Linked DNA regions of Homo sapiens. The protein of the gene in region 4 purifies or fractionates together with the protein of the main gene of each other region. This does not show direct contact. Each region holds a gene or a part of one and is shown on either strand. Other genes may lie near its edges. The genes, in order: TIMP2, SLC35F6, TMEM150C, PSAT1, THADA, ITM2C and ACAT2.

Region 1 (3,455 bases), on a different chromosome or scaffold from region 4:
GGGCATGTCCAGAACCCGGCAATGTGCCTACCTGTCATGTGCAGGGATGGCAGCCTCTCCCGAGACCCACGGTTCCTGCAGGGGCAGGCAGCTGGCCTGCGAGGGGGTCTAACCTGCAGGGAAGCTGTGCCCTGCCCACCGCTGCCCCCCCTCCTACTGCAGGTGTGCTTCCCTTTGGGCCATCTTCTACCTTCCTGAGCATGACAGAATGGCCTCAGCTTGGCCCTGCCCTCTGGGGGACACAGCAACAATAAAAGGGCCTGGGTTTCCTGGAGACAGATTCCAGCCCAGTGTTGCTCGCAAGCCGAGCCCCGAGGTCATCGGCAACTAGCAATTTGGCCAAGGAACCCTAGGCTACAAGAGGATGACCGCCTTCACCACCGTGGAAAGAAAAAGGAAAAACTTGCTTTTGATTTCATGCTGGGCACAGAGGAGTTTCGCTTAACATACGTGTGGCTGGAGACTATGAGTTCAGAATTCCTGTTTTGAACATGCGGAGAAGGGGCTGGGGGCCGTCAGGAGGGAGGGCAGCCCCAGGCAGCTCCCCAGGGAAGGCCAATCCCCACAGCCTCACCAGAGTCTCCTGGTCCCAGACTCACTGGGAGTGACCCAGGGTGGGAGGTGCCCAGCACTCAGCCATGCTTCCTGCAGGGAGGGTGGGGATAGGGTGCTAGGAGCCCACAGGGTAGGAGCCAGCCTGGGAGCCCTGGAGGCGGTAATCTCACCTTCCACAGCCACATCTAGGCGCTGCACTGCTCCAGCTGTGCCTGGCACAACCTCCGGGCTCATTTTAAGAGGAGCAGGTGTTCAGGTATTCTCAACACACAGACCCCACATAGACACCAACCCAGGTGTGAAAATGTCGGGAATGTTGGAAACAGCGTAAGGCCTGCAGTGCCTTCTCATAAGCCACACAGGCGTTTGCACTTGCACATTTGTAGAAAATTCTCCATGGGACCATATTCTCTCTCCCCATACAGCTCCTTTTTCTGGAAGCTACAGGTAACAGAGCTGAATTCATGCTCTTACTCTCAAATCTCCTAGCCTTCCAGACATCTCCCTCTTTTTTTTTTGGGACAGAGTCTCACTCTGTCAACCCAGGCTGGGGTGCAGTGGTGTGATCTCAACTCACTGCAACCTCCACCTCCCACATTCAAGCAATTCTTAAGCCTCATCCTCCCAAGTTGCTGGGATCACAGGCGTGCACCACCTCACCTGGCTAATTTTTGTATTTTTGTAGAGACAGGGTTTCGCCATGTTGGTGAGGCTGATTTCCAACTCCCGACCTCAAGTGACCCACCTATCTCGGCCTCCCAAAGTGCCGGGATTACAGGCGTGAGCCGCAGCGCCCGGCCTCCAGACATCCCCTGTCAGAGATGTGCCTCAGGGCTCTCCAGGGACCAGGGGTCAAAGGCTCTGTCCCCAGCCAGACAGCCTTACTCTTGGGATGACTCTACCTTCCCAGAGCCTGGTCTTAGATCAGGAGCCGGGGATTAACGGGTCCTGGAAAGCCAGGGATCAAAATCCCTGCCGTCCATCTGGAGACACTGGGAGGAGGCGATGCTCCAGCAGAGGCAGGACCTGCTTACCTTGCACTCGCAGCCCATCTGGTACCTGTGGTTCAGGCTCTTCTTCTGGGTGGTGCTCAGGGTGTCCCAGGGCACGATGAAGTCACAGAGGGTGATGTGCATCTTGCCGTCCCCCTCGGCCTTTCCTGCGGAGAGACGGGGATCACCGAGCTCAGGGAGAGGGAAAAGTCCTCCTCCTGCCCAGCTCCTCCACCCGGCGCAGGGGCGCTGGGATTTCGTTGCAACAATCCTGTGCACTGTCTATTCTGAGTTAAAACACAGTGGGTGGCCAGGCACGGTGGCTCACTCCTGTAATCCCAGCACTTTGGGAGGCTGAGGCGGGTGGATCTCTTGAGGCCAGGAGTTCAAGACCAGCCTGGCCAACGTGATGAAACCCCCTCTCTACTAAAATACAAAAAATTAGCCGGGTGTGGTGTCACACGCCTGTAATCCCAGCTACTTGGGAGGCTGAGGCAGGAGAATCGCTCTTGCACCCCAGAGGCGGAAGTTGCAGTGAGCCGAGATCGCGCCACTGAACTCCAGCCTGGGTGACACAGCAAGACTCCGTCTCAAAAAAATAAAAAGTGGAAAAAAAAAGAAAGCCATAATGCATGTTCACTGACAGAAACTTAAACATTGGAAACAAAGAAAAAACTTCCTGGCCAGGGGCGGTGGCTCATGCCTGTAATCCCAGCACTTTGGGAGGCCGCGGCAGGTGGATCACAAGGTCAGGAGATCGAGACCATCCTGGCTAACACGGTGAAACCCCCGTCTCTACTAAAAATACAAAAAATTAGCCAGGCGTGCTGGCGGGCACCTGTAGTCCCAGCTACTCAGGAGGCTGAGGTAGGAGAATGGCGTGAACCCGGGAGGCGGAGGTTGCAGTGAGCCGAGTTGGTGCCACTGCACTCCAGCCTGGGCCTGGGCGACAGAGCGAGACTCAGTCTAAAAAAAAAAAAGAAAAGAAAAAAATTCCCTACTTTCATTACCCACAGCTAATATTTTGATGTATTTCCTTCCAATATTCCACTATTGATTTTGAGACAGTCTTGCTCTGTCGCTCAGGCCAGAGTGCAATGGTATGATCATAGCTCACTGCAGCCTTGACCTCCCAAGCTCAAGCGATCCTCCCGTCTCAGTCTCCTGAATAGCTGGGACTATAGGTGTGAACCACTACACCCTGCTAATTTTTTATATTTTTTTTTGTAGAAACAGGGTCTTGCTATGTTACTCAGGCTGGTCTTAAACTTCTGCGCTCAAGCAATACCCCCACTTTGGCCTCCCAAAGTGTTAGGATTATAGGCATGAGCCACCACGCCTGGCCCCAATATTCTTTTAAATTAAATTTTATTCTAAAAAAAGGATAGAGACGATGTTTCACCATGTTGCCCAGGCTGGTCTTGAACTGAGCTTAAGTGATCCTCCCACCTTGACTTCCCAAAGTGCTGGGATTACAGGTGTGAGCCACTGCGCCCGGCCAATATTCTCTTCTATGTGCATCTTCACACATAAAACGTCATGCAGTATGTAGATTATATTGTTTCCTGTTTTGTTTTTCACAAAATATTAATTCACAGGTGCTTCTCCCATTTGAGTTTAAACTTATAATTCTGCATTTTTCCATTATGAAGAGCCAAAGCATGGAATTTTTGAAAATTAGGAATCTGCTCTGAATTCCCTTCATCAGGCATGATGAGCTGTGGCTTCTTTCTGTACTTCCGGCTCCTGACTCAGCTGCCTCCTTCCTTTGCTGAAGATACTACATTGGCAATAGCCTTGGCGTTTTACAAGCAGGAGGAAAAGAACAAAGCAGTGTGTTCCAGTGGCTGACAGAACCTAATGACAGCTATGGAAGTCATTTAAAAACTCATCCCTCAGGCCAGGTGC
Region 2 (3,500 bases), on a different chromosome or scaffold from region 4:
ACGTGTGCACAGGTTCATGGACACACACACACACACACACTCATAAAAACATTACCCTTACAGTATACAATGCTCTGATATTTAAAAATTCTATTCATTTAAAAAAAGAACTGCCAGCTGCAACTGACTACATTATTTTCACAAGTTTGGAAAAACACAGCTTTCTAGTTCAGTGTGTTACTGGTCTGTGACAAGGAGCTTGCGCCAGAAGGTAAGTCCATGCACTGCTTCACTCATTAAGGTCTTGCTAGAAAACAGAAATGAGTGGAAATAGACTGCATGCTCAGTGATATAGCTAATTCACATTCTGCCTAAGTCCCTTAGCTCACCGGGGGCCAGACAAGAGCTGCTCCCCAACAGGCACTAGCCCCCAGGACATTCTTTGAAAGCGCAGCTGTATCTTGCTAATCTCATAATTTTGATACTTACTTCCCTGCTCAAAAACTTTCAGTGATTCCTCCGTCATTTAAAGTCTAAATCTACTTGCCTGATGGTAAAGTTCTCTAATGACATGACCCTGACCTACTTAATTCCTGATTATTTCCCCAACATCAAACCTATACTGCACTCAAATTATTATTTTTTGAGATGGAGTCTCGTTCTGTTGCCCAGGCTGGAGTGCGGTGGCGCAATCTCGGCTTGCTGCAGCCTCTGCTCCCCCAGTTCAGGCGATTCTCCTGTCTCAGTCTCCTGAGTAGCTGGGACTACAGGCATGCGCCACCACGCCCAGCTAATTTTTGTATTTTTTGTAGAGACGGTTTTGCCATGTTGGGCAGGCTGGTTTCAAACTCCTGACCTCAAGTGATCCACCCGCTTTGGTCTCTCAAAAGTGCTGGGATTACAGGTATGAGCCACCGCACCTGGCCACACTCAAAATTATTCCTCACTGGTTTTCAAATTCACATCCAGTCCCCTGTGCCTTTGCTCTGTTTGGAGCTGCTCCTACTACTGCCTGTTGAAATTTGCAGCTCGAATGCCACCCTCCCTGCCCTGAGAGACTCAGATAGGCATGGCCAATGAGACATCAGTTGAGCACAAGTGGTCCAAACTTGAATTCACTGACTGCCCTTTCTTCCTGCTGGTCACCTCCTCTGAAGGGCTTGCATCTCATTCATCTCTGTCCTTGGTCTCCTCTAGTTCCTGACACAGCAGGTGTCAGAAGACTTGTCAAAACACATCTGGAAGGCAAGGCGGGGCAGGAAGTTCACCCCCCACAAGTGAACCCTGGCACCTTGTCCTGTGCTCAGCTCCCCAGGCTCCCTTCTACCCCACTCCTTCCAGGCCCCTGTGCCCACACACACCCTCAGTGCCAACTGCCCGCAGTGGGTGCACATTGTGTTTGTAGACGAACTTCTCCTCTAGCACCATCTGGATGGCAACGATGATCTGGGCCATGATGATCAACAGGTCCCCTGTGGGGAAGGAGGGACCCAGATGAGAACAGGGCTGCACTGGGGCTGGGGGCCAGGAGAGCATGGCCACAGCGACCAAACATGCCAGCCCCTGACCTCTGCAGGGCCCCCTATAGTTCATAGGCACAGTCACCACTGCCTGTCCCTGATTCCCTGGTTCCTGAGGGGCATGCCAGCAGTGCCAGGCTAAGGCCCCAGAGGCCTGCCTGTGTCTAAGAGCTGCCCCACGGGGTATGACGCAGGTCTTTCAAGAAGCAACAGGCTTTGAGATAGACATTTCTTGGTTGATCCTGACCCTAAGTGACCCAGGACAGTCATTTCATTGTAAAATGGGCTGTGATGCATCCGTTTGGGGCCTGTGGGAGTCACTGTGATGATGAACACACAGTGCTCAGCACCAGGCTGGGCACTTGGTAAGCACCTGTTCCTTTCCACTCCCAAATCCAGTAGTTTGCATGTCTGCATCTGTATCAAAGGACAAGCCAGCCCCTCGCCCTGCCCGGCCTGCCACTCATCCTTGGTGGAGCCACATCCCTTTGCAGTCTTCCCTACATTCTATCCATCACCTCCAGAGCTACCCACCTCACCCAGGGCTTGGTATATGGCACATGGCAGAGCTTGTATGAGTCTGTGCTGGGCTCCCAAGGAGGACAGGGCAGGATAGGGCAGCCCCGTGTCCCTGCCCCTGGCCGCACCTGTGATCACTTCGCTGAGCTTGTGCTGACTGTCGTGCTTGCTCAGGAGGTCAGCCAGGCCCACGACCACCAGCCCCGCGATGGTGGCTAGGATGCCCAGCCACTGGCTCAGCACCAGCCTCCGGCCCAGGAAGGCCACCGAGAACAGGCCAGTGAATATGATCACTGCACCCCGCAGCATCTGGAAGCTGGAGGCACTGGTCATGTTCAGAGCTAGGAAAGGAGAAACAAATTACAGTTAGCTTCCCAAGGCGAAGGCCATCTGTCACTAAGGGGTCTTTGGTGATAGACATGCCAAGCTCATAGTAAGCGCTCGATCAGTCCTGCCTGTGTGCCTGTGCGTGTGAAGTCTGGGGGAATGGTGGGATGAAGTGGAGGTGGGTGGGATAGGGCTGTTTCACCAGTAGCCCCTTCAGCCACAGCTTCCCCTGAGCCCTTCTCAGCCTGGCCTGGTTACTCACCCACATACATGAGGCTGGTCCCTGTCATGTCACAGAGCGCTGGGGGCAGGAAAAGAAGAGGGTTGAAGGGCTGCTGGGGGTCTACGCTGGAGTCTGATTGCCCTGCAGCTCTGCATCGGAGGAGGTAGAAGGCAGCCAGGCAGGAGAATTCTCCCAGGAACATGCCCACTGCCTGCAGGGATGAAAACCCGAGGACTTCAGAGCTGGAAGGGATCTCGGGGATCATCTTTAACTATTTTTTTTAATGCAAACTTTTGTCAAACAAGAGCTTACCCAGAACCCCAATATGTAAAATAGACAAATGCAGAGCTGCCATGGAGGCTAGAGACAGCCTCCTAGGTCTGCCCCAAAGCCCCCATACATCCTGATGAACCCTAAGGCTGTGCAGAGCCCTGTCTGAAAACCATCCATCTAGGCCAACCCCTAGTCAAATCGCAGGTGGAGAAGCCTAGACCCAAGAGAGGCTCAAAGACTTATGTAAGGCCACAAAGCAAGTTGCTGGTAGAGCTGGGGCTGACATTTGAGTCTCCTGATTCTCAGTTCAACGAACAGTGTCTTCCATTTATGGTGTCTGCCCTGTCCCAATTGGGGTCTGGGCTCCCAGTGGATAGAGAGCTGACTTTTGTCACTAGGGCTGATGTTTTCCACGTGTCCTGACTTGGATGTGGTGAGGACATGACCACTTGCCAGGACTTTCGCAGAGGATGGTGCTCTTTGCCCTATTCTAAACCTTGGATTCTGCTCTGGGGAGGGAAAGAGAGAAGTGGATGGCTCTTCTGGGAGCAGGAGACACCTCCACTCCTAAGTCAGGAAACAGCCTGGCCTCATGGCCGGGGGTGGCGCCTGGTCTGAGGCCCGGGAGACAGGAGGTAGGAGGGACAGGGCCAGATACCTGGAGGAAGGGATGCTGGAAGCTGTGCTCCTTGCTCCCT
Region 3 (3,156 bases), on a different chromosome or scaffold from region 4:
TGGTAGCCTGCTAGAGCTTGTTGAACACGAAAATCTATATGAATAATAAGTTAACATTATTGGGCTCATATTTGGTGGTAGACATGCTTTTAGGTGCTTTCATGGATAGTATCACTTAATCCTCACAACAATCCTATTATCATTGTTTTTGTTTCTCATTTTTACATGTTCTATTTGCCCTTAAATACTCTCTTATCCAAATAATTGTCAGTTTGTTTAAAAATAGGGAAACTGAGACCAAATGGGTAAGTAACTTGCCTGAGGTCACACAGGTATTAATTGGCTGAGCTGGGCTCAAACAAGCACTCTAACTCCTGCGCCATGTATTCAATAGCTGTACTCTGTAGCTGCTTACAAAACTGGGAGATTAGGAAAAGGATTACACTTCCAAAGTAATTAGTTTGCCAGAAAAATTAAGCTATTTTAAAAAAAAATCACTGCAAATGGTGAGCCAAGACCGGCCACTGCACTCCAGGCTGGTGGACAGAGCGAGACTCCATCTTAAAAAAAAAAAAAAAAAAAAAAAAAAAAGAAGAAAGCACTGCAAATGACTATGAATTCATAGTTATCGTTATATCTGCAGAAATAATTTTGAACATATCAAATTACTAACTGCCGACATGTAAGTTGTGTTTGGCTCTGCAGTGCTACTAACCGTGTCTGAGTGGCTGGCCTGTCTCTTCTAATTTTCACTATTGTCTTTCAGACAATACTGTATAGACCAGTTTCATTCCTCGTATCACGTCTAAACTTGTATGATAAACAGATGAGGCCAGGTGGGGTAGCTCATGCCTGTAATCCCAGTGCTTTGGAATGCTGAGGTGGGAAGATCACTTGAGCCCAGGAGTTTGAGGCTGCAGTGAGCTACAATTGCACCACTGCTCTCTAGCTAGGGTGACGGCAAGGCCCCATCATTAAAAAAAGAAAAACAAATGAGACTCTTATGCCTGGATATATATATGGAGTGTGTGTATGTGTGTGTGTTGTGTGTATCTGTATCTGTATATACACAACAGAATAAATGGAAGGAGGAGCTGGGAAGAAGGGTAAAAAGTTCATAGCAGCTTTAGTGAAAGGCCAAGTGTCTGAGGAACTAGATGCATTTACTTAGAAAGATCAGAAATGTCTCCTTAGAATTAGTTCTATCTTCTGAAATTAGACCTGAAATCGGGAAATTTTCAGAGAGCAAGAATGTGAAATTACTTCAGCCAAACTTTGCTTTGCTAACTGGGCCTTCATCCATTCACCTGAGAACCAAAGAAAAAAAAAAGATTCCACGTGTTCAGAAAGAGCATGAATCAGAATCATTTGGTGAAAGCTCAAAACTTGGGATAGGCTGGACAAGGTGGCTCATGCCTGTAATCCCAACACTTTGGGAGGCCGAGGAGTGTGTATCACTTGAGCCCAGTAGTTCGAGACCAGCCTGGGCAACATGGCAAAACCACGTCTCTATTAAAACAACAAAAATTAGCCGGGTGTTTTGGTGTGTGCCTGTAATCCCAGCTACTCTCTAGGCTGAGATGGGAGGATGGCTTGAACCCAGGAGGTGGAGGTTGCAGTGAGCCAATATCATGCCCCTGCACTCCAGCCTAGGCAACAGAATGAGACCCTGTCTTAAATCACAAAAAACATCTCGGAGTGATTTAAAGTCTGCACACTCTTTTGAACAAGGATGCAAAATATTGCCAAAGCAATATTAACTTATTACTTAAATTAATGGAGAAAGCATATCTCCTTTTATCTTATATTGGCAGAGTTTTGATCTTTTTGTTCATAAAGTATTTATTAGGTTGCTAGCAAGAACCAAGTTTTTTGGCTTGAACTTAAGTCCTTAAATGTTCTCTATCTAATGTGACTGTAGAACTTTGGAAAATCAGCAAAATGGTGGAACAGGAATTTGTGAATGAAGAAAAAATAAATAGTCCAAATACTCCACTAACTAGAGAATGGGCTCTGAACTGTGTGTGTTTTCATATTTTATTCTTTCCCCCCCTCATCTTAGGGTCTGCTTCTATTCATATTTTAAAGCTACTTTCTCTCTCTTTCTTTGAATTGATATACTTTATTTCTTTCTAGCTATTTTGAACTTTTTATTTATATTTATTTATTTATTTATATTTCAATAGGATTTTGGGGAACAGGTGGTGTTTGGTTGCATGAATAAGTTCTTTAGTGATGATTTCTGGGATTTTGGTGCACCCACCACCCAAGCAGTGTATAGTGCACCCAATTTGTAGTCTTTTATCCCTCATCCCCCTCCCATCCTTTCCCCTGAGTCCCCAAAGTCCACTGTGTCATTCTTATGCCTTTGTGTCCTCACAGCTTAGCTCCCACTTATGAGTGAGAACACAGGATGTTTGGTTTTTCATTCCTGAGTTACTTCACTTAGAATAATGGTCTCCAATTCCAACCAGGTTGCTGCGAATGCCATTGTTTCATTCTAAAGCTACTTTCTCTAAGGTGGGGTCTGAAGTGGTTAAGAGTGAAGAGCTGAGCCTGAGTTTAAATCTCGATCCACCACGCATTATCTGTGTGATCTTGCGCAAATTAAACTTCTCCATGATTCACTGTTCTTACATGTGAAGTGAGGATAAAAAGAGTTGATACATTTAAAGTACTTAGAATAATGCCTAGCACGCTGTCTAAAAATTGGTGATTATTATGACTGAAGATGTGTAATTGCATTTTCTGTACAATCTACCCTTTAGGAACCTTGATTCCTTTCTCTGGTTTTCTGAGGAGGGCCTTACTGGAGTGAACACTTCTTTTATTTTTGCCTTTTATTTTATTTTATTTTTTGAGTCAGGGTCTCACTCTGTCACCCAGGCTGGATTGCAGTGGCATGATCACAACTCACTGCAGCCTCAAATTCCTGGGATCAAGTGATCCTCCCCGCAAGCCTCCCAAGTAGCTTGGACTACAGGTGCACACCACCACACCCTGCTAATTTTTCTAAAACAAATTTTTATAGAGACCAGGTTTTGCTATCTTGCCCAGGCTGGTCTTGAACTCCTGGGCTTAAGCAATCCTCCTGCCTCAGCCTCCCAAAGTGCTAGGATTACAGCATGAGCCACGGCACCAGGCCTTTATTATTTATTTATTTATTGTTAGAGACAGAGTCGATCTTAGCTCGCTGCAGCCTTAAACTCCTGGGCT
Region 4 (3,500 bases):
AAACATGGGTGACCCCGTCAAGCACCACTGTGGGCTGGATCTAGCCCCTGCTCCCCAGTGAGCAATCAATCCCTGGAGTTAACACCAAATTTCAGAGGTGACCAGGTCTGTTGTTTGAATGGGTTGAGGGCCGAGGTAGGAGAAGGGGCCAAGGCAGACTGAGAGGCTATGTGGGCTATGGATGGGCATGGAACCAGCTGGAAATCCCAGGGCTGCAAAGATTTAAGGAGAAAGTCCAAGTGGGAACCAGGGAAAGAGCCGCACTTCCCAACATCTTGGTGGAGCACGAAGATGTCAACAGGCATTCTGGGAAAGTGGTTCCATGGCCAGAGAAACTTAGGAAAGCTGCATTCACAGAGCTAGGCAGACCTCCTCACTCCTGACTTCCTGAAGCCTCTCAACAGCTCACCGACCACGTAAATGAGGAACCCCAGGAGGTCAGACAGGAACGCAGTGTTCCCCCATGACTGAAAAACCCTTCCTATTGTGGGGATGAGAGTTCCAGACAGTCCCCTCGGAGACACGCTGCTCAGGGACACACCGGGACTTTCCAAGGTACTGGAGGAGGGGAACATGGCAGAGGTACACCTTCAGCCAGGGACACCCATCCCACGAAGGTGGTAAGGCTCAGAAGGGAACGCAAGAAAGTCACAGGAGATGAGCAGGCAGTGAAGAAACATCACTCCACAGTCAGGCCCCTCTGAAAGGATGTGTCAGATACACAGGGAATGAGAAAGAAGAGTATGTGAAGAGAAGCCTACCAAATGCAACCCTATGTAGGCCTCTCCTTACTGCCTGGTTTTGTCAACAAAAAATTAATTTTAAATTTGTACATGATTATGAAAATCTAGAATAAAAATATGAAGATCTGCCACCCCTCTTCCCACAAGAGGTGGCTACCCTAATGGTCTGCTGTGCATTCCTGAAGATCATTTTAGATATACACATGTACGTCTGTGTGCATATGCATGTATACATGTATGTGTGTCTATGTGTAAATATGTATGTATATATAACTCTTGTAGTTTTGTTTTTGTTTTTGTTTGAGACAGGGTCTCACTCTGTCACCCAGGCTGGAGTGCAGTGGTCCAATCTCAGCTTACTGCAGCCTTGACCTCCTGGGATCAAGCGATCCTCCCGCCTCAGCTTCCCAAGCAGCTGGCACTACAGGCATGTACCACCACACCCGGCTAATTTTTTATTATTATTATTATTTGTAGAGACGAGGTCTCACTATGTTGCCCAGGCTGGTCTCAAACTCCTTGGGGTCAAACAATTCTCCCACCTTGGCCTCCCAAAGTGCTAGGATTACAAGCATCAGCCACTGTCCCTGGCCTTGTTGTAGTTTTTAAAGACTAATAGATTTGTCTTTTCCTACACTTGCTCTTGCTCCTTTTGGTCTGATGACATAACACAGTCATCTTCCCATGTCTGCTAAGAGACCCGCTTCATCCTTCTCAATGCAGTCATTCCATATTACCCACAGATCCTCATTGTTTTCATCAGACCCCTACTGATGGGCACAACTGCATATTTCCACCATTACATCTTACATTGGACTTGCTGGTCCCTAATTTTGTGCACACCACTGTACCCAGGCAGAGTGCTGGGGAAGGGTAAATCTGTAGACATCAAAATCCTTGGTCAAAGCCCATGTAAGTTTTGAATTATAATGAGCGCTGCAATCTTTGCTCCAAATTTGTCCAGATTTATACTCTCACCAAAAGTGCATGCCCTTGCTGGCACCAGATGTTATCAATCCTTTTAATGTATGCAGATGAAAGGCAAAACATATCTCATGGGTTTAATCTGCATTTCCTAAGGAACTAATGAAGGTGGCATCTTTCCATTTGTCTATGAGGCAGCTTGCATTTCTTCTGAGTTGTTTCCTCATACTGTTAGCAACCACCACACCCCCACTTTTATTTCCTTATCCTTTTTCATTCATCTGTGGGTTCTTGCCTAAATTAAGGATAGTAACCTTTATGTTTAATATACTACAAAATCTTTCTCATTCTGTCATTTTTGATTCTGTTTATGATGTCTTAAGCCATATAAAATTTTAAAATTTTCATGTAATTAAATACGTCATTCTTTTACTTTATAGCTTGAGTTGTATGTTTAAGGCCTTCTGCACTCCTGGACATAGACAGCAGCAGAGGTTCTGGAATGAGCCTTCCACCCCCATGTTCGTAGCCTGGCTGGTCCCACTTTCCAGCTGCATCCTTGTCCTATCTGTGCTTCTGCTGCATAGGCTCAATGTCTACTTCACAGGGTTGTGATGACAACAAAATGCATTCACATGTGTAAGGTGCCTAGGACTCTGCCTGCTTCATTTTATTTTAGGGTCTTCGCTAGACCCATCACGTGCCTCCTTCTCTTTCCTAAGGCCTGGTACCCACATAAGGTGATAAAGGTGACCTCAGATCCAGACATGGAATCTGTCACTTGGACATCCTTATATAATAAAATTAATATATATTATATACTTATATAATTAATTATATTACATAAGCTTATATAAGCACTGTGTGTCAGGAATATCATAATTGCTTTATATAACAATAACCACAAATAATGATATTAAGAGCTAACATGCAAGGAATGCTTCCTGTGTGCCAACCACTGTTTCTAGCACTTTATACAAATTAACCAGCACAAGAGTCCTCAATCCTTAATGTAAAAATGCTCTCAATCCTTATATTATATATTCTTGATTCAGAAGCATTTCCTTTTAATTCTCTTGACAATTTTAAGAAGTATGTATCATTACCTCCATTGTACAGATGAGAAAACTGTGGCTTAGAGCAGTTAGGTCATTTGCACGAGGTCACACGCACCACCGTGGCAAAATGGGGCTTCTAAGCCCAAGGTGCTAAACGGCCCACGTGGGCTCAACATGGGGTCAGTCAGCACAGTGTGGGTGACTGGGCTATGGAATCAACTTGGAGGCTTCGATGGTTGTCTTATCTAGTCCCAGAATTCCCTGCCAAGGTCACTGGCAGGGCTGGTGAAACCCCCAGCAAACAACCTGGAACTATGTTAAGGAGCTGGTTTACGAGTCAGGGGGCATGGAAGTGGGGAGGGGGTGCATCTTCTCAGAGACAAAAATGAGGAGCAAAGGTGGTGGTAAATTGCAAATTCTAATTCTAGGTATTCCTCTTTAAAAGTGGCCACCTCCCATGGGGCCATGTTGCTCAACTATTTCCATAGTTCCAAAGAAAAGAAGAATTTCCTGAAAATCTAAGTGAGTTCAGGCACAGCCTGGGAGTCTCCAGCTATAAACAGAGGAGAGACAGAGTACAGCCTCCTCTCTACTCCAGTAACAAGGTCCCACAGAACACCAAGTGCCTGGGATGACGCTTTCCAGGCAGGCAACTGAGGGGGTGGTGGGAGTTCCTAGAAAGAGGTTTATTCTTAAAAGGACTGGAAGTCCTGGGTCAAGGCAGTTCAGAAATGAGTGAAGAGCTCTGGGTGTGAAGGATGACCAGATTCCCCAG
Region 5 (2,844 bases), on a different chromosome or scaffold from region 4:
AGGAAGGCTTCCCTGTCCAGTGTCTCCTCTGCACATCTGCCTGGATTTGACTGGTTTGCCCTTTCCTTGGAAAGCAGATCTCTTGGGCACAAGACACATCCTAGAGCAGGGCATCGGCAAGCTTTTCCTTAAAGGGCCAGAGAGTCAATATTTTAGACTTTGCAAGCCTATACCTCCTCACCTCGGCTGAAAGCAGCCATGGACAATCTGTAAACAAATGGTTGTGGCTGTGTTCCAATAAAACTTTATTTATGGACACTGAAATTTGAATTTAATGTGTCACAAAATATTATTTTTTCCCAACCAATTAAAAATGTAAAAACCATTGATAGCTCATGGGCTGTAAAAAGCAGGTGGTAGGCTGCATTTGGCTCCTATTTTGCTGCCCTCTGTCTCGGAGTTTTTTGTTTTTGGACCCTTGTTTTCCTGGGTGCTTGGAGGAAGGGCACTGAAAGAATAGAAGGGTGCAGAAAGAGGAAGCAGGGGGCCTTGGGGAAACCATTGCTTATTTCAACATTTGGCCTTAGACAATCCTAAATATGGGTTTGGAGGGAGGCTCAGGGGTGTTGTCACTTCCCCTAACAACTCTGCCCCTCCCATCCCAAACCTGGAGGGTGTCTGAAACACGGGACTGAAAGCCCACTGCACAATGGACCTCTGTAGGCCCATCTTGCACCAACTGACATTGAAAGGCCTGTCTTTCAATGATGCATTTCTATTGAGCCCTGATCACTCCCAAATCCACATCTCTAACTTGAGCACACAGACTTACCCTGACCATCTGGCCCCCGAAAGACTTACTCGGCACACAGGCAGACGACCGAGAATCTGCAACAGCAGGCTTAGTTCCCGTGGGTGTTGAACCAGGCTTACTGGGATGGCCCCACTGAGGGCCTAGTGAGTGCCAGGCCCTGATCAAATGCTGTCTCCCCAGTCCTTCTAGCATCCTATGGGTTGGGTATTATGTAACCCACTTGCACACATCAAGAAATTACAGTTGGCAACAAGTTTCATGGTGCATGCAAAGCGCAGATTTGGAGACCCAGCATCAACAATCCAGAGGTTTTGATGGTGGGGTCAGCAGGGGTAGTGACCCTGCAGTAGGGCCAGGACTATTCAGAGGTCACACAGCAGCACCTAGTTGCATGTAAGCAGGTGAAAGTACTGATCTCACCATCTTGAGAGCTCCAGATAAGTCCCCCAGGACACTTGCCCTTTAGTGTCCCCGTTCCCCATGCTGCTTGCTCTGCAGCCTAGAACCCAGATTTAAACCAGGAAACAGAAAAGGGGAGGGGGTGAAGGTGCATTTTGGCTGTGGGTCTGAGCCATGTGTTGACTGGGCCTCTACCTACAATACAATCTCCATTTTTACCTCTACCTAACTCCTTTCTGCAGTTCTCAATTGGCTGAGAATCTGTATAGAGAAGGGATAATTAAGTGGCCTTTTTCTTTCTTTTTTCCCTTCAACTTTTATTGATTGATTGAGACAGAGTCTGTTGCCCAGGCTGGAGTACAGTGGCGTGATCTTGGCTCACTGCAACCTCCGCCTCCTGGGTTCAAGCAATTCTCCTGCCTTAGCCCCCAAGTAGCTGGGACTATAGGCATGTGCCACCACACCCAGATAATTTTGTTTTTGCCCAGCTAATTTTTGTATTTTTTGTAGAGACTGGGTTTCACCATGTTGGCCCGGCTGGTCTCAAACTCCTGACCTCAAGTGATCTACCCACCTCAGCCTTCCAAAGTGCTGGGATTACAGGTATGAGCCGCTGCACCCAGTGGGTTTATCACTCTTTTTTTTTTTCTCAGACTGAGTCTTGCTGTATTGCCCAGGCTTGTGTGCAGTGGCGTGATCTCAGCTCACTGCAACCTCCACCTCCCGGGTTCAAGCGATTCTCCTGCCTCGGCCTCCTGAGTAACTGGGATTACAGGCTCCTGCCACCATGGCTGGCTAATTTTTGTATTTTTAGTAGAGATGGGGTTTCACCATGTTGGCCAGGCTAGTCTTGAACTCCTGACCTCAAGTGATTCACCCGCCTCAGCCTTCCAATGCGCTGGGATTACAGGCATGAACCACTGTGCCCAGCTTATCACTTTTTTGTTGTTGTTGTTTTGTCTTGAGACAGAGTTTCGCTCTTGTTGCCCAGGCTGGAGTGCAGTGGCACCATCTCGGCTCACCGCGACCTCCGCTTCCCAGGTTTAAGAGATTCTCCTGCCTCAGCCTCCCAAGTAGCTGGGATTACAGGCATGCGCCACCACACCCGGCTAATTTTGTATTTTTAGTAGAGACGGGGTTTCTCCATGTTAGTCAGGCTGATCTCGAACTCCTGACCTCAAGTGATCTGCCCCCTCGGCTTCCCAAAGTGCTGGGATTACACCCATGAGCCACTGTACCTGGCCTCCCACCACTTTTTTTATGGTCTCCTTAAGGCAAGGACTGAAAGCCCAACAGGGAAGAAAAAAATTTCATCATCCATCAGCAAAATCAGTATCTGCAGCTCAAGTGACATTCCTGTTGAGTCCATAAAGAACCTATGGGGGTGACCAGAGATGCCACCAAGGAAGGCTAGGCTGCTGCACTAGCCCCACCTGACAGGACAGGTAGCCTCTATCCTGCACCATTTTTTTTTTTTGAGACAGAGTCTCGCTCTGTCGCCCAGGCTGGAGTGCAGTGGCGGGATCTCGGCTCACTGCAAGCTCCGTCTCCCGGGTTCATGCCATTCTCCTGCCTCAGCCTCCCGAGTAGCTGGGATTACAGGCACCCGCCACCACGCCCGGCTAAATTTTTTTTGAATTTTTAATAGAGACGGGGTTTCACCGTGTTAGCCATGATGGTCTCGATCTCCT
Region 6 (3,500 bases), on a different chromosome or scaffold from region 4:
AGCCACCACACCCGGCCCAAAACAAGATGTAAAAAGTGATCCGCAGGAGGAGCACTCGGTGAACAGATGATTGTGCGGTGAACAGATGATTGTGCGTTGGGGCAGTTCTTGACCTGTGTCCAGGCCCAGAGTGAGGGCGGGGTGGGGGCAGGGTGAGGCGGCAGGAGCACCCTCTCGGTGGGCACTGCCCCTGCTTCTGAGCAAAAACTGCAACACAAGGAGGATTTTGTCTGTGGACCTGAGACTGGAAGGAAGTGCCTCAGTGGGCCAGGGAGGGATGGGGGTGGGGGCCAGCTGGGCTTCCAGCTGCCCGGCCTCCCCCCCTGGTGTTTTGACTCTGAGATAATGAGGAGCTGGGACACTGCCAGCTTGGGAAGTGGGCTGGACCGGAAGCACCCCCTGGGACAGCAAAGCACTCCCTCCCAGCGCCAACTGGATCCCTCCTCCCCTTTGGGGGCCCACTGGCTGGCCATGCCCCTCTTAGCCTGCCCCTTCTCCCCACACCCTGCCTGTGCCTGCACTCACACACACACACACACACACTTATGCACACACATGCACGCACAGATGTGGGCATGTAGAGGCTCACGAGCTGGGGCTGTAAGGGGAGAAAAACAAGTTAAATACAATCATCTTCTTACCTCTGTAATTTTCTCCTTGGCATTTGCCTTTGATTAATGGTCCTGTGTCACCCCCTCCCCAGCCTGCATACCTGGGGATCAGATTTCAGTTTCCTAGTGTGTCCTGGTCTCAGGCCCTCGGCAGGAGGAGCTGGGTCTCCTGGAGCGGTTGGGGGAGGGTCCCGTGCCAGCCAGGAGGGCAAATCTGGCCAGCTTAGCCCTACCCCAGTGTCCTGATGCCCACTGGCCAAGAGGGCCTGGCCCGAAAGCACTTTGTGGAGCAGCGGCCCTGCTCCATCCAGGTCCTTCCCTGTGGCAGCGTGGGGACTTTCATGGCTGTCGTCCATTCCTGGGATTTGGCGCCCCGGCAGGCCCCACGGTGGCTTCTCTGCTTTCCTGCCGCTTCTCTCTCCATTCCCTCATTTCTGCTCTCTTCTCTCAGCAGTCCTTGCATGTTTCAAGACCGTCAGCAGATTGCCAGTGAGGATGAGTTTCTCTTAGTGTGGAGAAAAAATGTTTATGGTGAAATCACAGAGGCACAACCTGGCCAGCCCCTCTGTCCACCGCCCCACTCTCTCCAAGTTCCCTCTCCCCATGAGGGCTCTTCCAGCAGTGAGCTTTTGTTGTCTGGAGATGCCTTGACTATCAGGGATGGAAGAGAAGAGGGAATTCGCCTGGCCCAGCCAAGCCGAGAGCGCATCTGCACAGATGCTGCCCGTGGGGCCTGCAGTCTGGAAGGGAGGACAGGAGAGTGATGGGGACCCCTGACCCTGTTGGCAGATGGCATCTGTGCCTCTGGACCACTGGGCTCTGTGTGCTCAGGTGGACAGTGTTTGCCCACTCTCCTCTCCCCCAGCTAGGCTCTGTCTTGAACACATACAAGACACACACACTCGGTGGGTGCCCTGGCCTCTGTGGTCTGGAGCCTGGGAAAGAAAGCTGCTGAGGACCAGGAGAGATGTGGGGGAGGTGAGATGAGACTGCCTCCCCAACCCCCATCTTCCCTGTTCTCAGCCTGGGCCTCAGGAGTGCGTTTCTGGCTGCCGAACCCCTCCAGGCAGGCTGCAATCTGCAATCATCGTTAAATCGGCTTGCAGTTAATTTGGACATTGTTACTGGGGGATGGGGCCCGGGAGCGCTCCCTTCCAGCTGTGGGGGTCTGCCGAGTTAATGCTACAGTTGGCTGGTTTCCCCCTGACCATTTTGGCCCTGGCTTTGGTAAATCATTTAATGAGTGCCCCTGTGGGTCTCAGTTTAAGCCTGCAGGGAGAGGCCCAGGCCTCTCTCGGGTCCCTGGACTTCCGGCTCATGCGCCCTTCGCTCAGAGAGCTCTGTTGCCTTGGAAACAATATGCAATATTTTTCTACTATCTAAATGGGAGCCCCCCTCCTCAGATACCTCACTGTCAGTAACTGCTTCCTATGGGGAGCAACATTTTTCTGGGTCCCCAGCATGATAGGTGGTGCGGCTGGGGTCTCAGGAAGGTGGGCCATTCGGCCATCTTTCTAGTGAGCTGGGCACCAGGGATCCCAAGGGGCCAGGGCTCTGGGTTGAGCCCAGGCTCCCTGATGCCCCACTGTCCCCAGACAGGTGTAAATACCCCGAGATCACAGGCTGCTTTGAGGGCCAAAGGGACAGTGAGGGTTCCAGGGCTTTGGTGTTTGAGCCTTGGTGTTGATTGGGCACAGTAGGCAGAGGCAGCGCTGGGGCGGGATTTAGGAGTTCTGCCTCTGTGTGGGGCTTTATGGAGGAAATGCCTTCGCCTCCAAGCAGGGACATCTGCGCTTTCCTGTCTACTTTCTGGTAGCCTGTAATGCTGCCTTCTGCACTTCTGCTCATAATGGTGCCTCTGAGGGTTTGGCTCTGCAGGCTGGAGCGGAGCTGGGAGGGTGGCAGCGTGGCTGAGCCCGGGTGTGTGCTGGGGGACATCAGCAGGGCCATGAGAGAGAAGTGCCCACCCGCAGTCTAGGTAAGGTGGGGGATCCCCAGCCTTCACAGTGAGGGGTCTTGGCAGGAACCCCTGCCCTTCTCTGCCACACCTGCCACTGCTGCTCTTCAGCTGGGGCCGTGGAAGCCTCACCTTCTCCCTGCTCTGTCTTCTCTAACCTCCCTCGGTGGGGCCTCCGAGCCCAGCCCCTCCCCCAGGACAGGGAGACACGGGACCCAGCTCAAGTTCTGCAGACCAGCATTAAGGCGGAAAGGCGGAAAGGCGAGGCTGCCCTTTGCCATAAAGCTAGCAGGCCTCACCTTGTCGGTGAATTTGATTTGTGGAGCAGGCCCTCGGGCTCTCCCACGTAGCGCTTTGACTTTTTTTTTTTTCCCTTTTCTGTCTTTCTGGTTGTTAGCAATCTCACAAGCTAGTTTCCCTGGTTTTCCAGAATGCAGAAGCAAAAGTCTGGCCACAATGCAGCCTCAACAGCTGTCCACAGAGTCAGCCCTAAAAAGGAAAGGCTCGGCTGATAAAGATCTGCTATTTTTATCTAGCACTTGATCCTTTACAAAGGGCTTTTAGGTTCTTTGTCTCGTTTAATCCCAGCAAAACCCCTGTCACGCAGAGTCTGTCCACATTTTGCATGGGAGACCCGAGAAGGGGGAGGTTGCAGGGCCCCGCTGGGCCTGTAGCCCCACTTGACCCCTAAATACAATCTGAGCCCTGGTGTTTGTTGTGTCCCGAGGGCAGATTTCCCAGCTGCTGTAGGCAGCCTGGCCTGTGTCAGGGTCAGCCACCTTTCCTTAAGACCTGCTCAGGAGCGCCAGAGGGGCAGGAGGGCATCCCTGGTGCCTGGTTTGCAAGAGCTCCTGGGTGGTTCGATCCCTGGGAGATGCCAACGGAAGGTGTCACCCCCGTCTCTTGCTGCTCCCGGGAGTCCATTGGAAAAC
Region 7 (4,300 bases), on a different chromosome or scaffold from region 4:
ACAGGTGTGAGCCAAGGTGCCCGACCTGATGTGCTTGTAAGAATTTAAATGAAGAGGGTCAGTCAGCTTAGGAGACGAGGTTAGATGTAAGGATTTCAGACTTGTCAGTATACAGGTGGTGATTGATGCCGTAGGAATGACTGGTATTACCCAGGGAGCTGGTGCAAAGTAGGAGCCTTGGGGAACATGTTAAGGGGATGTGAGAGTAAGCCCACAAAGACTCAGAAGTGGCCAGGGAGTAAGGGGAAAATGGGATAGAATAGAGCAAAAGCCACGGGAGGCATTCCTTGAATTCCTTGGACTCAGATATGTTAGGGGACAGGAAACACATTGAAGACAACTGAAGAGACTTCAGTGTGCTGCTGAGTTCTTAGCAGAGTAGACAGCTGATTTCACCACTATTCCAGACCCTAAAGATTTCTCCTGAAATTGCACTGTTATGCAATTTTTTTCCTTCTCTATTGCCCCACCTCTGGGGCCTACACTCTTTACCTTCTCTGATTTATCTGACCCATCCGCATATCTCTGCAAAGTCTTAATGTAGGTTTCCAGGATTTAATGATTCTTTCAATCAACTTTAAAGTTCTTCAGGAAGATTCTCCAGGTCCGTCAACAGTTTTCCCCTTCATGACTTTGTGACAAAGCTTTCTTGTTCCACTATCCAGGTGTTCCCAACAAGTTGCTGTAACGGTGGCCCCTCATAAGCTTGCCTGGAAACCCTAGAAAGCTCAGAAAAATTATGAACTTTGCCCAGTAAGAGGCTGGGAAGTCAGAAAGGGTTTTAAACAAAACTGACCCCACTTGTTACATGCTCCTTTCACTGTCCAAACGTCAACCAAAGGAACTTTTGTGACGCTAAGACGCTCCCGGCGTCCTCACCCGTTCACAGCCAGAGTTGATCTTAGAAGGCAGGGGGCTCGCACCGAGACGCTCCTAGCAAGCCCCTCACGCGAGCGAATGACTGGCGCCAGGAGAAACGCATAGGACCTCCCGAAGCCGCCGAGAGCAAAAGGACCCATCAGAGCTGTGCTGAGACCCGCCGCGGGCCGGGCTCGCACTCGAGATTCTCGCCCGTGGGATTCCAGTCCTGAGCTGAACGAGAGATAAGTCTTTGTCACCCCCCAGTCTTTACTGTTTCGAGAAACCCTAAGATTTTTTAAAAAAAAGCCCAAGACGTCAAGTCGGGGAACTCCAACATTGGGGTGTCCAGAAACACTGGGGTTTCAGGCGCTCTGTAAATGCGTCCGAGGTCCGCGGTTCTGCCCGCAAGCCCAGACCCCGGCCTCACTTCCGCCCCGCGCCCCGCGCCCCGGCCTCACTTCCGCCCCGCGCCCCGCGCCCCGCGCCCCGCGCGCCTCCGCCCGCCCCTGCTCCGGCCTTGCGCCTGCGCACAGTGGGATGCGCGGGGAGGTGGTGCGCGGGGAGGTGGAGGGCGAGGGGCGGGGCTACCTCAGGTCCCGCCCGCGGCAGGCCTGTGGGCTGCGAGGAGGAGCTTTGCCTAGCTTGCAGGCAGCGCAGGGCAGACGGCGGCAGGAGAAGCAAGATGAATGCAGGCTCAGATCCTGTGGTCATCGTCTCGGCGGCGCGGACCATCATAGGTGAGTGGCCGGCGGGAGCCGCGCAGAGTCCGAGGCGCCTGCTGCTTCGGCAGGAGCGCCGAGGGCCGGACTTGTGTAGGAGAGGGGCGTATGTGGAGGAAGCCGGTCAGGCCAAGCCGCGAGGAGCCGCGGGATCCCTGGAACCCTGCGGCTCCCGCGTTCCCTGACCTGGTGCTACAGCCCCACCCTCTCCTCTCCCGATGTGCGCACTCCGTCCCTCGTGCTTGGATTGGCTCCCGGGGTAGAGCCATCGCGTGGCCTGCCTCTCCCATTGGTTGGCGTAGGGAGGTGTTCTCCTCCGGGGCCCCTGATTGGCCGGCTCCGGGAGGCGCCATCGGTAATGCCTGCGGCAGGGGCGGAACTGCTAGGTGGTCTGAGCCCGGCTTTGGGCTGGGGTCGGGCTGTCACACAATGGCTAGAAGTCGTGACTTCGTCTCCTTCGTGCCGCATGGTTTTCAACGCCCTTGACCCGCCGGTTCCTTTTGTTTGGGAAGCATGGGGTCGCATCCAGTCCTTCGGATTTGGGGAAATAGAAGGGCTACAGCGGCGTCCCTAGGCCGTTCTGGAGGTCGCCTGTCCAGCCCTCGGCTGCTGCGAGTTGTGGCACCCACCTTGACCTTTGCTCAGACCAGCAGGTGTAGGAACGTGTGGGAGGAGAGGGCACTGCCTCCTCGCGTGGCCTTGCCAAACAGGGTCATGAGGCTCCCCTGCTCGTAGGTGGTTCCCGTATTACCCGCAGGCTTGTGATGTCCACGCTCTCCGCCTTTCTATTGTAGGTTCCTTCAATGGTGCCTTAGCTGCTGTTCCTGTCCAGGACCTGGGCTCCACTGTCATCAAAGAAGTCTTGAAGAGGGCCACTGTGGCTCCGGAAGATGTGTCTGAGGTCATCTTTGGACATGTCTTGGCAGCAGGTAAGTCTCAGTGATTCCAGGAGAAGTCAGGCTTATTAGAAACAGCCCATAAACACACACACACACACACACTCTCACACACTCACACACTCTCTCACTCACTCAAGTTCTTGCCTCCTTGCTTTTGCTCAGAGTTCCCTCTGTTATGATTCCTCCTGTTGGCCCCCTTCTTCCAGCCCTGTCAGTAGCTTCTATCCAGCTTGAGACTCAGCTTCTTGGCCAGGCAGGGTGGCTCCCGCCTGTAATCCCAGCACTTTGGGAGGCGGAGGAGGAAGGATCACTTGAGTCCAGAAGTTTGAGACTAGCCTGGGCAACAAAGCAAGACCCCGTCTCTACAAAAAATAAAATAGCCAGGTATGATGGCCTGTGCCTCCCAGCTACTGGAGAGGCTGAGGTGGGAGGATCACTTGAGCCCAGGAGTTTGAGACTGCAGTGATTGTGTCACTGCACTCCGTCATGGGTGACAGAGTGAGACCCCTTCTCTAAACAAACAAAAAGACTTAGCTTCATTAATATGCTTTTTGTGAATGAACTTAGACCACTGACCTACACCACCTACACTGCCTTTTCTTTTCCTTTTTTTTTTTTTTTTTTTTTTTTTTTTGAGACGGAGTCTCTCTCTGTGGCCCAGGCTGGAGTGCAGTGGCGTGATCTCGGCTCACTGCAAGCTCCGTCTCCCGGTTTCACGCCATTCTCCTGCCTCAGCCTCCCGAGTAGCTGGGACTACAGGCGGCCCACTGCCTTTTCATTCTTACGAAGCAGGGCCGGCCGGGCCCGGTGGCTCACGCCTGTAATCCCAGCACTCTGGGAGGCCGAGGTGGGCGGATCATGAGGTCAGGAGATCAAGACCATCCTGGCTGACACGGTGAAACCCCGTTTCTACTAAAAATACAAAAAATTAGCCGGGTGTGGTGGCGGGCGCCTGTATTCCCAGCTACTTGGGAGGCTGAGACAGGAGAATGGCGTGAACCCGGGAGGCGGAGCTTGCAGTGAGCTGAGATTGTGCCACTGCACTCCATTCAGCCTGGGCAACAGAGTGAGACTCCTTTTAAAAAGAAGAAGAAGAAGCAGCAGCAGGGCCAGCCTGACGCATAGGAAAGTATGCCTGCTCCTCCTTACTACCTCAAAGTGTCACTCATTCAACAAAAATGTATTCAGTTCCTCCTATGTGCCCCATACTGTGCTTAGTGCTGGGAGTATGGTTCCAACAATACAGGTAAGTTCCCTGCCCTCTTAGGGCTCAGTTCTGAGCTTGGAAAATAGGTGCCACATCATGCCCCTTGCAAATGGGGCATATCACTCCCCAGAGGAATATAGCTGAGTCCTGAGAGTGCCCCCATCTTCTGATTCTTTGGGTTTGAACACTCGTAATTAATTAATTAATTATTATTATTATTATTTAAAGAGACAGGGTCTCACTCTGTTGTCCAGGCTGGAATGCAGTGGTGTAATCAATCGTAGCCCACTATAACCTCAAACTCCTGGGCTCCACGGTATCCTCCCACCTCAGCCTCTGGAGTAGCTGGGATTACAGGAGCAGGCCACCACACCTGGCTAATTTTTTAAATTTTTTTGTAGAAGTGGAGTCTGTCTGTTGCCTGGGCGTGAGTGCAATGGCTGTTCACAGGCACAATCATGGTGCACCATGCCCTTGAACTTCTGAGCTAGCTGGGACTACCGGTGCATGTCTACTAAGTTTAAGGCTTTTAAAGCACTGTGCTAAATGCTTTCCTTTCATTACCTCATTTAATCTTCCTCACAAGTCTGTTATATCCTATTATCTTCATTTTA

Evidence for each region.
Region 1: the proteins of PSAT1 (region 4) and TIMP2 purify together in Homo sapiens (co-immunoprecipitation; one large-scale study listed by IntAct). This does not show direct contact.
Region 2: the proteins of PSAT1 (region 4) and SLC35F6 purify together in Homo sapiens (co-immunoprecipitation; one large-scale study listed by IntAct). This does not show direct contact.
Region 3: the proteins of PSAT1 (region 4) and TMEM150C fractionate together in Homo sapiens (co-fractionation; one large-scale study listed by BioGRID). This does not show direct contact.
Region 5: the proteins of PSAT1 (region 4) and THADA fractionate together in Homo sapiens (co-fractionation; one large-scale study listed by BioGRID). This does not show direct contact.
Region 6: the proteins of PSAT1 (region 4) and ITM2C purify together in Homo sapiens (co-immunoprecipitation; one large-scale study listed by IntAct). This does not show direct contact.
Region 7: the proteins of PSAT1 (region 4) and ACAT2 fractionate together in Homo sapiens (co-fractionation; one large-scale study listed by BioGRID). This does not show direct contact.

What each region holds. Positions count from the first base shown.
Region 1 is NC_000017.11:78,855,933-78,859,387, forward strand, and holds part of TIMP2 (metalloproteinase inhibitor 2 precursor), read right to left. Parts: intron 1,715-3,455; coding exon 1,590-1,714; intron 1-1,589. UniProt on the Homo sapiens protein: Complexes with metalloproteinases (such as collagenases) and irreversibly inactivates them by binding to their catalytic zinc cofactor. Known to act on MMP-1, MMP-2, MMP-3, MMP-7, MMP-8, MMP-9, MMP-10, MMP-13, MMP-14, MMP-15, MMP-16 and MMP-19.
Region 2 is NC_000002.12:26,774,284-26,777,783, reverse strand, and holds part of SLC35F6 (solute carrier family 35 member F6 precursor), read right to left. Parts: coding exon 3,461-3,500; intron 2,741-3,460; coding exon 2,569-2,740; intron 2,321-2,568; coding exon 2,108-2,320; intron 1,413-2,107; coding exon 1,302-1,412; intron 1-1,301. UniProt on the Homo sapiens protein: Involved in the maintenance of mitochondrial membrane potential in pancreatic ductal adenocarcinoma (PDAC) cells. Promotes pancreatic ductal adenocarcinoma (PDAC) cell growth. May play a role as a nucleotide-sugar transporter.
Region 3 is NC_000004.12:82,485,833-82,488,988, forward strand, and holds part of TMEM150C (transmembrane protein 150C), read right to left. Parts: intron 1-3,156. UniProt on the Homo sapiens protein: Nonselective cationic channel with high permeability to Ca(2+). Component of a mechanosensitive cation channel, confers mechanically activated (MA) currents with slow inactivation kinetics. May contribute to proprioception.
Region 4 is NC_000009.12:78,321,125-78,324,624, reverse strand, and holds part of PSAT1 (phosphoserine aminotransferase), read right to left. Parts: intron 1-3,500. UniProt on the Homo sapiens protein: Involved in L-serine biosynthesis via the phosphorylated pathway, a three-step pathway converting the glycolytic intermediate 3-phospho-D-glycerate into L-serine.
Region 5 is NC_000002.12:43,233,195-43,236,038, forward strand, and holds part of THADA (tRNA (32-2'-O)-methyltransferase regulator THADA), read right to left. Parts: intron 1-2,844. UniProt on the Homo sapiens protein: Together with methyltransferase FTSJ1, methylates the 2'-O-ribose of nucleotides at position 32 of the anticodon loop of substrate tRNAs.
Region 6 is NC_000002.12:230,867,942-230,871,441, forward strand, and holds part of ITM2C (integral membrane protein 2C), read left to right. Parts: intron 1-3,500. UniProt on the Homo sapiens protein: Negative regulator of amyloid-beta peptide production. May inhibit the processing of APP by blocking its access to alpha- and beta-secretase.
Region 7 is NC_000006.12:159,760,545-159,764,844, forward strand, and holds the start of ACAT2 (acetyl-CoA acetyltransferase, cytosolic), read left to right. Parts: upstream 1-1,500; 5' UTR 1,501-1,543; coding exon 1,544-1,598; exon of another isoform or gene 1,599-1,788; intron 1,789-1,934; exon of another isoform or gene 1,935-2,093; coding exon of another isoform or gene 2,094-2,235; intron 2,236-2,374; coding exon 2,375-2,509; intron 2,510-4,300. UniProt on the Homo sapiens protein: Involved in the biosynthetic pathway of cholesterol.